2 separate regions of the Homo sapiens genome follow, and region 2 is linked to region 1. A link means that fine-mapping ties the variant in region 1 to the expression of a gene that starts in the linked region. Tissue or cell type: testis. Region 1 holds a variant in brackets; the other region holds the start of a gene. All regions are shown on one strand. Distances are from middle to middle.

Region 1 (6,557 bases):
TGGCGGCAGCACCGCAGGGTCTAGGGGAGCCCACCTGGCTCTGGCCTCCTGCTCTTCGCTTCCGGGGAAACGGCCCAGGCCCCTGCTGCACACTCTTCCTTCCCCTCTTCAGTAGTAAGAGGAGCCAAATGCGGCTGACGGTGCATCTGAGGCCGAGGCGCAGCCCCCGCCCCTGGGGTGGACTTTGGCCGCATGGGCAGGGCCAGGCAGGCAGGTAGCCTCTTGGGGCCTCTGAGGTGGCCCGAATGCCTCCCCTGATCACGGCTGCCACCCGGGCATCCTGGTCCCCCTGCGTCAGAGCCCACACACATGACAGACAGGAGGCTCTGGCTCAGATGAGGCCAGCGGCACTTCCTTTCATCCTGCCTGGCACCCGGTTTCTTGATGACCCAGGCCAGTGTTTTTCACGCTGAATCGTGTTTGACTTAGAAGCACATGGGATGATCCCTTTGGCCTTCCCAGCACCTCCTGAGAAGTATTGTCATCAGACCTGTGAGCATGAGATGGCGCTGGGCCCAGAGAGGTCAGTGCCCTGGCCCAGGATACACAGCGCACAGGAGGTCACTGGGAGCCTGAGTGACAACATCTCCAGGGCTGGACAGCCTCCCTGTCAGGGGTGAGAAACGGGTCTGTGCCCATTTCACGGCTAAGAACCTGGAGCAGGTCCCCCTTCAGCCCAAAGCCCAGGAGGAGGCGGCTGCTTATTGCAAAAGGTGTGAACCAGGCTGAGTGGTGCCGCCCTCCCCATCCACGTGGTCCCCATCTTTCCCATCCACGTGGTCTCTGTCCTCCCCATCAACGTGGTCCCCGTTCCCCCCGTCCAGGTGGCCCCCATCTTCCCAGTTGGGTGATCCCCGTGTTCCCCGTTGGGTGGTCTGCGTCCTCCCCATCGGGTGGTCTCTGTCCTCCCCATCGGGTGGTCTGCATCCTCCCCATCGGGTGGTCTCTGTCCTCCCCATCGGGTGGTCCCCTTCTGGCTCTGGGTTGCCTGCATCTTGCAGCTCCACACTCCGGAACATGTGGCTTCTGGCATCACCGGGGCGGGGGGAAGGGGCCAGCTGCAGCCCTTGGCTGGAACGTGTCAGGCAGCCAAGCCTATGTGCAAAGGGCCGGGACCTGAAGGAGTGAGAAGCCGGACGCTGTTGTCCCTGACCCTGAGCTGAGCAAGTTCCACTGAGGCCACAGAGATGAGTCCGACCTGAATTCTGCCCTCCCGGAGTTTACAACAGGGTGAAAGGCACCTGGCGGGTCTGGAATGCCAGCTTGGAAGGGATCGTGGGAGGAGCTGGCTGAGGAAACGTGGGCCTGGGGTGGGGGTGGCTGGGTTCCCAGGGAGGCCGCAGGTGCTGTGGTGTGCACAGCAGGGCCTGAGCCTCCTGGGGCCAGGAGGCTTCCTGGGCGTGAGGCCCAAGCTGAGTTTTCCATAGGGATTGAGAGTGAGTGAAGGCTGTTTGGAAGGACGTGCTGGGCAGTGGGAAGTTTGAGCAAAACCTGGAGACAGGAAAGAGCTGTGTGTTGAGAGAAGCTACAGCTGGTGCAGTGTTTCTGGAATGGAAAGTTCACGGCGGACGTGTGGAAGGGAGCGACTCCCAGTGGTGGGCACAGCAAGGGCCCCTCCCAAAGACGTCGGAGGCTGAACCCCCAGGACGCTTGAACAGGGCAACCTTGCAGGGGGAACTAGGTTAGGAATCCCAAGTCGGGAGATAGCCTTGGATTATTCGGTGGGTGCTCCTGGAGTTTAGGGAGGATGGAGAGGCTGCTGGACCCAGCGTAAGGTCTGGGCTCCTTAGAGGCAGGTGGGCGGGTCAAAGAGAGAGCAATTTGAAGATGCTGGGTTTGAAGATGGGCCGTGGGCCAAGGCTGCTGCCGTCTCTGGAGGCTGAGAAAAGAAAGCAGTGGCTTCTCCACCAGGCTCCTGCCAGCCCTGCCTTCAGCACCCTGAGGCCCTTTTCACACTTTCCCCTCCAGGACTGTAAGATAATACATTTGAGCTGTTGGAAGCCACTAGGTTTGTGGTAATCTGTTAAAGCAGCAGATAGGAACCTCATAGACTCACTATTGAGAAAAGAAAAGCACTTTTATCTGAGGAGCAAGTCCTTTTAATTATTGGGTCCAGAGAGGCGTTCAGTTGAGGCCGCAACCACATCCCACTCCCCCTTTGAGCTGCATGTTCATCTTGTGAAAGGAAAATCATTCTCGGGACCCCAGATCGCTGAGCCTAAGAGAAAAGTCCAGCTGGGAACTGTGCCAGGCAAACCTGCCTCCCATTCTATTCCTGAGTAAGGGAACTACAAAGATTTTAAAAAGCTACACGCCTGCCTCACGATTTGCCCACAAAGAAATTCCTTGTGGACAAAGCACAGACAGAACTCAAAGTCACCCCACTGCTCCCGTGAGACAAACGCACACAGCTGATCACTTCCTCTGCCCTCATTTCACTGAGCCAGACTCAGGCATGAGTGACCATTCCTGTAAATTGTGCATTCCGTAAAAGGCTAATCAGAAACTCAGGAGTGCAACCGTTTGTCTCTTATCTACCTACGACCTGGAAGCCTCCTCCCTGCTTCCATCTGTCCCGCCTTTCCGGACCGAACCAGCGTTCATCCGATGTATGTTGATGTCTCATGTCTCCCTAAAATATGTAAAACCAAACTCTGCGCCGACCACCTCAGGCATGTTGTCAGGACCTCCGGAGGCTGTGTCACAGGTGCGTCCTGAACTTTGGCAAAATAAACTTCCTAAATTGACTGAGCCTTATCTCAGACGCCTTTTGGTTTACAACGCTACTGAGATGTTCATCTCACCTGCAGCTGTGTATGAGAAGAGGTCGTGGCTGCATCTGGATTCGGAAAGACCCCAGTGCTAATGATTGTTACCATAACCAAGGGAAAGGACTCTAACCTGTGCGGGTTTACGGCTGCCTTCTCGGCAAGCTTGAGATTGTAGGAGCCATACGTGGCCACGATGTGGACTGCACTCTGGCTGGTGGCTGTGGCGTGAC[C/T]ACGGTCACTGCACAGTCACTTGGATCCCTGGGAGGAGAGTCCTGTAGCCTCGGACCGGGGATGCCACAGGCATGAACCCACCTTTGCAAAAATTATAACAGTGGAAAAATTATGGCAGTGAAAGAGACCCGAGGTAACCAACTCCCATCTTGCCTTTAGCCTTCAAACTGCCCTTAATTATTCCTGGGCTTGGGCCAAGCTAACTCTGGGAGACATTTAGTTTATAGCTTAAATGATAATAACCCTTCCGCAAAACTCAACAGCCTTTGTAAAGCTATTGAGAGACCACTAGGCTACGAGGACGAGAGGAGCCTGAATTCTGCTAAAATGGAGACACAAAGGATTACCCCCCTTTATTCTGGAGCTCAAAATATGCAACTTCCCAACTACTCCCGCAGATAACGTCACTACGGTGGAACCTAAGACTGGCCTTTGAGATGTCTTTTCAGGTTTTTTGCAAGTCTGACAACTGATTTCCCCCCCTGGACCGGTCAGCCTCCCTGGTGCCACCCAGAAGCGACTCGGGGCACAAGGACCATTTCCCACACCCCGACGACTGCACCCCCAACCAGTCAGCAGCAAGCGCCCTTGCCTACCCACCCGACTCTCTTCCCCTAAACTAGCCTTGAGAGACCCTGGTCTCTGCATTTTCAGGGAGGCTGATGTGAGTAACAATAAAACTCTAGTGTCCTGTTTAGCCGGCTCTGCGTGTGTAAAACTGTTTCTCTATTGCAGCTCTCGCCACTGGCCAGGAAACGGTTTCCCCCTCCTCGGGCTGTGCTGGGAGGAAGGGTCTGAAGTGGCTTGTAATGTCGGAAGCAAAGTGGAGGACTTGCCCGGAAGAGGGAGGAAGGCCTTGGCTCCTTTGAGCCAGTGGGAATGGAAGGGAAGGCGGCCAGGATTTCCTCAAAAATATTTCCCCATAGCCGGTCAGCTCCCCACGGGGCCAATACCGCATCCTCACTCTGGGCGCAAGGACGGCCCCTTCCCAGAGCCCATTTAGAACTTGGATGAATGTTCTATCAACACTCATGGATGTTGCCTGGATGAATGGGCTCTATCCGGGCCTTGAGTAGGAAGAAGCCGCTGGCAGTTACTTGCTCACCCAGAGACTCCAAGCAGCCACACTCACCTGGGCTGATGACTCAATTGACTCCTGAGTTTCTCCGGCTCTTCATTGAGGTCTGTCTTTTCCACCTCCATCTTTGAGCCTCTGAACTTGATGAAAATCGGTTACATGTAGATGGCTTTTCTGTCCAATGCTAGAGAACTTTGAACTTAATGGAATCCTGCCGTCTTTTCATCAACTCAGTGCTAAACAACTCTAGATTTTAAAATGATATCCAGTGTGACTGCGTCCATTTCACATGGCACAAGGATTGTCTGTGATCACGATTCATAAAGCTGCTATTTTTTAGCTGACACTAGGCCCAAGCATGGCCCCTGGGGGCACAGGGCTGTTTATTTCTCTTTTAAAGCACCCTAATCTGGGAGGTGTATTTTGCCGGTGGCTGGCGGGCTGGGAGCAGAGAAAAGTTCAGTGTAAAAATGAAAATGCATTCCCGGCAGGAAAACTCCCACCCTAAGGGCACGTATGCAGTTTACCCCAAAACAATGGTTGCCGTGGGTAACCCGAGTGGTGTTGCCAGTGGCTGCCAGTTTGGCCCTTCCAGGGAGATGTCAAGAGACCCCTTCTACCAATCCCTTTCCTCATTAAAGAGGAAGAATGTTTGCTTTCTGGGAGATATTTAAGAGGACAATTTGAAATCCCACAAAAGCCAGGGTTGGTAGAATCAGGACTTGGCTCAGCCCAGCTCAGCCCCGCAGCAGCTACCCCGGGCTCTGTTTGTCCTGGCTTCCACCAGGGCCAGCGCTTCACAGCCGGAAGCAAACAGGCCAAGCATTTCTTGGTTAATAGCACAAGGGGGCCAGGCTTGCTGGAGAAGCAGCGGTCAGGGCCAGGGGCCCCTAACCTCTGCAGTCGCCCCTCCCAGTGGCTTTCCAGAGCTGTTTTCCACCTCTCCCTGAGGAGCTGAAGGGCGCCGGGGGCCGAGTCACTGCCACAGCCGCAGGGACCAAGCCCCATCCCAGCAAGGCTGAGGCCTCAGGAAGGCGGCCAGCCCAGGCCCTCTCGCCACTGGCCAGGAAACTGTTCCCCCCCTCGGGCTGTGCTGGGAGGAAGGGTCTGAAGTGGCTTGTAACGTCGGAAGCAAAATGGAGAACTTGCCCAGAAGAGGGAGGAATGCCTTGGCTCCTTTGAGCCAGTGGGAATGGAAGGGAAGAAGGCCAGGATTTCCTCAAAAATATTTCCCTGTAGCCAGTCAGCTCCCCACAGGGCCAATACCTCGTCCTCACTCCGGGTGCAAGGACAGCCCCTTCCCAGAGCCCGTTTAGAACTTGCTTCTCTTCAGACTACATTCCCTCCTGGCTGGATTCTGGAGACCATAACTGGGGCACCTACCAAGTGGGGCCCGTTAGAGGTGCTGGCGGAGTTCCCGTGTGACCCCATCAGGGTGGCTCACAGCACATCTCCGCAGCGACACGCTCAGGTCTGGTTTTCCAGTGTGTATGCGTGGAGCCCAGCAGTGGGGCCCAGATGGCGTGGTGAGGATCACCACTGAAAGGCAGGCCTCGAGCACTTGCCCAGAGTCCACTGTTTGGAGGGCAGTTCGATTCACCGTAGCCAATTAGCCCACAGCACACACAATCTTTCTTTTCCCATTGAGTTGTCTTGGCACCTTGGTTGGAAAGTAATTTACCATGTATGTGTGGGTCTATTTCCTTTATTTGAAAGTGATTTTTAAAAGGAAAATTGCAAGACCCCTTCTTCTAATTGTGGCCCCACACCCTTGCCCATGCATCCGACTCATCTCCATCCATCCTGTGTGTCTGGTAGTTTCATAAAAAGTCAAACACATACCTGCCATTATGACCCAGCGATTGTACTCCTGGGCATTTATCGCAGAGAAATTAAAATGTATAGTCACACAAACGATCATAGCAGCTTTATTTGGAACAGCGAAAACCTGGGAACAGCCCCATTGTCTGTCAGCAGGTGCGTGTCCGACGCATCGTGGTGCCTCCACACCACACAACGTGCTCAGCAACGGAGAGAAACAGACTCTGGGAGAAAACTCCATCTCAAAGGCTGCATTCCGCACTCCGTTCCCATAACACTCTTGAAAGGATGAGTGACGCCGGCGGGTGCTGTGGGTTAGAGAAGGGCCCCGCGGGGCACACCTCACACCTGTGGGGATGGACGGTCATGCATCTCGAATGTGGTTGTGGTTACAGAAATCCACATATGCGGCCACACATCGCAGAATCTCCACACGGAGTCGTACCCAGAATAAAACAAACACACGGAAACCTAGGATGTCCAAATGAGCTCCGTCATCCAGTGACTTGCGTGGTGCCCATATCAGTTTCCTGGTTTTAAGAATTTGTTGTAGCTCTGCAAAGTGCTGCATTGTAGGAAGCTGAGGAATGGAATGTGGGACCCCTCTGTACTATTCGGCAACTTTTTGTGAAGCTATAATTAGCTCAAAATGCAAA
Region 2 (6,557 bases), 42 kb after region 1:
CAAGGTCAGGGACCTTTTTCTGTGGGCCCAGCACTGTCCACAGCCTGAGAGCAGAGAGAACAGAGAACAGGTGAAGCAGCTGTGACTAATGAACCTGCCCTGCCTTCTCCTCTAGGGCAATGGAGATAGGCCCAGGGTGTCCTTTGGCTTTAGCCAAGCTCTACCATGCAGACAGTAAGACAAGAGCAGAGCTGCAACAACCACCAGGCCCATGATATGCCCCCAGCCACCCCACAGAGAATCCACTATTAATACCATGTTACTCGCCCTATCAATCCCACATTACCCCATCATCAATCCTACTAGCTATAGACCACTAAGCTCAAGGGTCTGTCGCCACCTCTTGCCACAGTCAGTGTCCATGAACAGTGTCTGCAGGGCTGCTCTCTCAGGGCTCTGAAGAGAAGCCAATGGTGGAAACCTGGATGTTGGCAGACATGGCTCATGGCAGTGGGCATCTCCCCATTTCAACCTCACATATTTTTCACATGGTTCAGGAACCACAGAGCATTCCAGCCGTTCATAGACACGGACATGATGTCAGTATTTCCTGCTGACCTTCCTCTGTGGAATGTGAGGGCTCCTGCCCCGTGGGCCCCAGTTGGGAGCAGCACTCCTGGTCCATCTGCCAAGCCAACTGCTTTTCCTCCTTCTCACCTCTCTGCAAAGCATACTTTCGCCACCACAAAAGGGGAGCATAAAAGGAAGGAATGTACCAGCCACATGCCAACTCTTACTCTCCCTCTTTGCAGCATAAACCTTCCGATTTCTTATAACCCTTTCCCATCTAAAGCCAATTGGTGCATCTCAAATAGCAATATATGATTCTGAAATTAACAATAGAACCTTATTAGTGCAAAATGAAGCCCAGTTTGCTGTAGGCTGAGATGTTTTGAACCATCTAAGGGAGTTGAGTTATTTTAGCAGCACAAAGACATTCTCCAAAAACATGTTCTCCTGGAAGGCAGCACTAGACAAAGAGACTAATGATATCTTGTGCTGTTGGGTAATCTCAGGTGGGCCCTTAACTTTTCCAAATCACGGTCTCTCAGGAGGCTGCAGATGAGTGGGTTCCCACGGCCTCTTTTGAGCTCTGGCACTAGACAAGGTGGTTTATAATGGGAAGGGGCAAAAAGTGAGCTGTGGAGTCTATAGACTTAGTTTGAATTCTGGTGTTTCAAGTTTCCAGGGGTGTGACCTCAAAGAGCATGTTTAACTTATTCTCAGATACCCTATCTGTGAAGAGGGTATGGCAACTTAAGGGTTAATACAGAGGATTCAAAATAAAATATTTAAATGATAAATTTTTCAATAAATGATATTAGGACAATTAGTTATCCATTTTGCTAAAACAAAATTCCTCCTCTCTACTCTTTATCGCATGTATTAAAACACACTTCAGAGGATCAAAGATTTAAATGTAGGCTGGGCACAATGGCCCATACCTGTAATCCCAGAACTTTGGGAGACTGAGGCAGGAGGATTGCTTGAGGCCAGGAGTTTGAGACCAGCTTGGGCAACCTGGTGAGTCTCTACAAAAAAAAGAAATAAAAAATTGGGGGCTGTAGAGAAAAAAAATTAAAAAATTAAAAATTTCACTGGGCATGGTGGTGCATGCCTGTAGTCCAAGCTACTCAGGAGGCTGAAGTGAGAAGATTACTTGAGCCCAAGAATTTGAGCCAGGGGTGAGCTATGATTGTACCACTGCACTCCAGCTTGAGTGACACAGCAAGACCTGGTCACACACACACACACACATACACAAATTAAAATTAAATTTAATAAGTTTTTTTTAAAAAAGATTTAAATGTGAAAGAAGAAAGAGGGCACTCCCTCTGTGGTCGCCACTGGCTCTCAGAAGTAGTGCGTGAGCAGGAGGCTCCACTCTGATCCAGGAGCACTGGCATCTATGAAGAGGGAAACCAAGAAAAAATTCTTTCTGCTATCTTTCCTTTCAGTAATGCTTATCTTAAGAACACTCAACTGGAAAACCACTCCACCTAAAAGTAGGAAAGATGGCAATTCTAAATAGCAACTATTATCCCAGGGAGACCCCTCAGATATGTGAGGAATCAAGCCATAAATGTGCATTTGCTGGACATTATATACCACGTCATCTCTATGACTACAGATTTTAAGGATAATTTTTACTCACTTAACAATTTCACTGTAACAGTGACTGATAATGTGAAAATGTGCTTTATACAGTGCTGCTGATGGGTACACAGACAAGTTCTTGCTGCAATTATTTCTAAATCTAGCCAGATCCCAGAGTCATGAAGATATAAGCTCTGTGAGACCAGGGACCATCTCTCTTTCTTGCATCATAGGCACACTTGATAAATACTCATGGCTGGAAAAAAAAAAAAAGAGGGAAAGATAGAGAAAAGGAGGGCAGGACAAAGAAAAGGAAAAGAAAGACAGAAAGTAATAGAAAGCAAAGGTGCATATTTTTATAATCTTAGAATGAAGAAGACCACTCAGGAAAATCTTAACACCTCTCTGGATAAAAAATTCAGAAGGCACTGCAAAAAACAAAGCTAATAAAATATGTTTACACTTTTAAACTCTTTGTGGGAAAAAAACATGGTAAATAAAAGAAAAACTGGGGGCTGGGAGTTTTCAATTCACTTACAAAGAGTTGATTTCCATAACTACAAAGCATGCTTACCAATTAAAAAGTAGAGAACAGGACCCAACTTTTGGTAATGGCAGAATAGCCCCCACTGAACCAACCTTTCCACAGGTAACAGCTATAAACTTTAGGTAAAATATGGGGGGAAAACCTGCTTAAAAGCACTGGAGTGTGATAGAAGCAGGCAAACACTGGAGTTCTTGTGGTGATGGAAATGTCCTGTGCTTCAACTGCACTAATGTTTGTGTCCTGATTGTGATGTTGCTCTGTAGCTTTGTGAGTTGACATTGGGGGAGGCTGGGTGAAGAGGACACAGGATTTCTGTGTTACTTCTGTGTGTGAATCTACATATACTTCAAAGTAAAGTGTAATTTTTAAAAAGTCAATTTATGGCTAGGCATGGTGGCTCACGCCTGTAATCCCAGCACTTTGGGAGGCTGAGGCTGGTGGATCACAAGGTCAGGAGATCAAGACCATCCTGGCTAACATGGCGAAACCCCGTCTCTACTAAAAATACAAAAAATTAGCCAGGTGTGGTGACAGGCACCTGTAGTCCCAGCTGCTTGGGAGGCTGAGGCAGGAGAATGGCGTGAACCCGGGAGGCGGAGCTTGCAGTGAGCTGAGATCACTCTACTGCACTCCAGCCTGGGCAACAGAGCCAGACTCCATCTCAAAAAAAAAAAAAAAAAAAAAAAAGTCAATTTATGTAATTTATATGATTAGAAAATAAAGGATTAATTCTAATCATCAACAGATGTATAACAAACATTTGAAAATCAACAACCATTAATGATTAAAGAAAAAACCCAGGAAGCTTGAAATAGAAGGAAATTATCTCATACTGATAAAGAACATTCTTAAAAACCTAGAGTGAACATAAATATCAGTTTCCTCTTAAGATAGGAAACAAGGCAAGATTGACCATTCTAACCATTTCTTTCCACCATTGTCCTAGAGGGCATGGTTGGTGCAATATGACAAGAAAGAAAGCCAGATAAACAAAAACCTCACAGCAAAGGCTGAAGGTCTGTTTACCTCAGCTTCTTCGGTCTAACACATCATGTCCAGATTTCCAGAAAAAATTACAAGGCGTGCCAAAAGGCAAAAAATACTGTCAGAAGACACAAAATGAGCATCAGAACCAGCTCAGATATGGTAGAAATTTAGGAATTATCAGATCGGGAATTTAAAATACCTATGATTAATGTGCTAAGGGCTTTAATAATAGAAAAAGTGAACAATATTAAAAAATGAATAGGTAAAATTGAAATGCAAAGAAAGTGTAAAAAGGAAATGCAAGAAATTATAAACACTGTAACAGAAGTGAAGAGTGTGTTTAATGGGTTCATCAGTGAGCTGATAAGAAAAGAATCAGCCCGATATGTGGGTCAAAGAAACCTCAAGAGAAATTAAAAAGTATTTTGAACTAAATGAAAATGAAAATGCAACCTATCAAAATTTGTGAGAATCAGTGAAAACAGAGCTTAGAGGGAAATTTACAGCATTGGATGAATATATTGGAAAAGAATAAACATCTAAAGTAAATAACTTAAAATTCCATCTTAAGAAACTAGAAAAAGAAGAGCAAATCAAATGTAAAGTAAGCAGAAAAAAATAATAAAAATCAGAGCAGAAATCAATGAAATTGAAAACAGAAAAACAATAAAGAAAATCAATGAAATCAAAATTTGGTTCTTTAAAAACATTAATAAAATTGATAAACCTTTAGTCAGACTAGTCAAGAAAAAAAAAAGAGAAGACACAAACCTCTAACATCAGAAATGATAGAGGGACATCACTATAGATCCCGTGGACATTAAAAGGATAATACATGAATATAATGAACAACTCTATGCCCAGAAATTTGATACCTAGATGAAACTGACTAGTTACTTGAAAGACACAATCTACCAAAACTCACAACAAGGAGAAATAGATTATCTTAATAGACATATTTCTTATAGAAATTGGATCGATAACTGATAATCTTCCCAAAGACAAAACACCAAGACCAGAAAGGCTTACTGGTGAATTCTACCAAACATTTAAGGAAGAAATTATACCAGTTTTCTACTATCTGCTCCAGAAAACAGAAACAGAGAGAATACTTCCTAATTCATTTTATAAGGCCAGCATTATTCTAATATCAAAATCAAAGACAGTACAAGAAAGGGAAACTAAGGACCAATATCTCTCATGAACATAGATGCAACAGTTCTCAACAAAATATTAGCAAATTAAATTCAACAATGTATAAAAAGAATTCTGCACCATGATCAAATGGGCTTTATTCCACTTACGCAAGGCTGGTTCAACATCCAAAATTAGTAGTGAAATTAATCACATCAACAGGCTAAAGAAGAAAAGTCATATGATCATATCAGTAGATGGATAAAAAACATTTGACAAAAATCCAACACCCATTCATGATACAGACTTTCAAAAAACTAGGAATAGAGAACTCCCTCAATTTGACAAAGAATATCTACAAAAACCTACAGTTAATGTCATACTTAATGGTGAGAAACTAGACACTTTTCCCCCAAGATTAGGAAAGGGCAGAGATGTTTCTTTTCACTTGCTCCTATTCAACATCATATTAAAATGCAATAAGACAAGAAAAGTAAATAAAATGTATGCAGATTAGAAGACATAAAATTTTCTTTGTTTGCAGATGACATGATTGTTCAGATAGAAAATGCCCAAGAATCAACAATTTTAAAACTCCTCCTTAAACTAATAAGTGACTATAAGAAGATTGCAGAATCCAAGGACTATAAATAAAATATCAATTGCTTTCCAATATATGAGCAATGAACAACTGAAATTTAAAATTAAAAAAAAAAACCATTTACATTAGCCCCAAGTTAAAAAAAGAAAAATATGTAGGTGCAATCTAACAAAATATGTATACGATCTATATAAGGAAAACTACAAAACTTTAATGAAATAAATTTTTAAAATCCAAGAAAATGGAGAACTATTCCATGTTCATGGATAGGAAGACTCAGTATTGTCAAGATGCCAGTTCTTCCCAACTTGCTATAGAGTCAATATATTCCATTCAAAATTCCAGCAAGTTATTTTGTGAATACCAGGAAACTGATTTTAAAGTTTATGTAGAAAGGCAAACGACCCAGAATAGCCAACACAATACTGAAGAAAAACAAAGTCACAGAACTGATACTACCTGACTTCAAGACTTACTATACAGCTATGGTAATCAAGACTATGTGGTGCTGTTGAAATAATAGACAAATGGATCATTGGAGCAGAACAGAAAGTCCAGAAAAAGACCCACACAAATATAGCCAACTGATGTTTGAAAAGAAACGAAGACAATTCAAATGAGAAATGATAGTCTTTTCAACAAATGGTGCTGGAACAACTGGATATCCACATGCAAAGTTTAAAAAGTGAAATTAGATACTGATTCTACACTTTTCACTAAAAATTTATTCAAAATGGATCATAGACCTAAACGTAAAATGTAAAACTATAAAACCCCTAGAAGATAACATAGGAGAAAATCTAGATGACCTTGGGTATGGCAATAACTTTTTAGATACAACACCAAAGGCATGATCCTGTTGATGACAAAACTAAACTCTGCGAAATATTTTAAAAGGATTATTCTGAGCCAATGTGAGTGACCATGGCCTGGGGAACAGTCTTAAGAGGTCCTGAGAAAGTGTGTCTGAGGTGGTCAGGTTATGGTTTGGTTTTATATGTTTTAGAGAGACAGAAATTATAAGCAAAGGCATAAATCAATACTCAGAAGGTATATATTGATTGATCCCAGAAAGGTGAGACATTGTGAAGCAGGGGCTTATAGGTCATAAGTGAATTCAAAGATTTTCTGTTTGGCAGTTGGTTGAAAGAGTTAAGCTTTGTCTGAAGACTTGAAGTCAGTAGAAAGAAA

Which allele goes with the higher level. Positions count from the first base shown, and alleles are read on the strand shown. Sizes are in standard deviations (SD) of each study's normalised expression.
For the expression in testis of the gene that starts at base 2,818 in region 2, C is the high allele of the variant in region 1 and T is the other (small effect, 0.21 SD a copy in GTEx).

What was found. PIP is the estimated chance that this variant, and not a neighbour inherited with it, causes the effect. A credible set is the group of variants that fine-mapping cannot tell apart.
Region 2: it holds the start of LINC00452, and the variant in region 1 is the best candidate, but not a certain one, in a credible set for the expression of LINC00452 in testis (GTEx, PIP 0.52).

Annotation. Positions count from the first base shown.
Region 1 is chr13:113,933,735-113,940,291 of GRCh38, reverse strand. It overlaps a transcript of C13orf46 not described here. Among named protein-coding and RNA genes, the nearest start is that of SWINGN, 8.0 kb to the right of the region's middle. RefSeq lists enhancers at 3,317-3,798, 3,799-4,300. The variant C/T (reference allele first, on the strand shown) is at 3,002.
Region 2 is chr13:113,891,364-113,897,920 of GRCh38, reverse strand. It overlaps LINC00452 (long intergenic non-protein coding RNA 452), which reads right to left and starts at 2,818. Exons shown (of 8, transcript NR_164112.1): 1 at 2,672-2,818.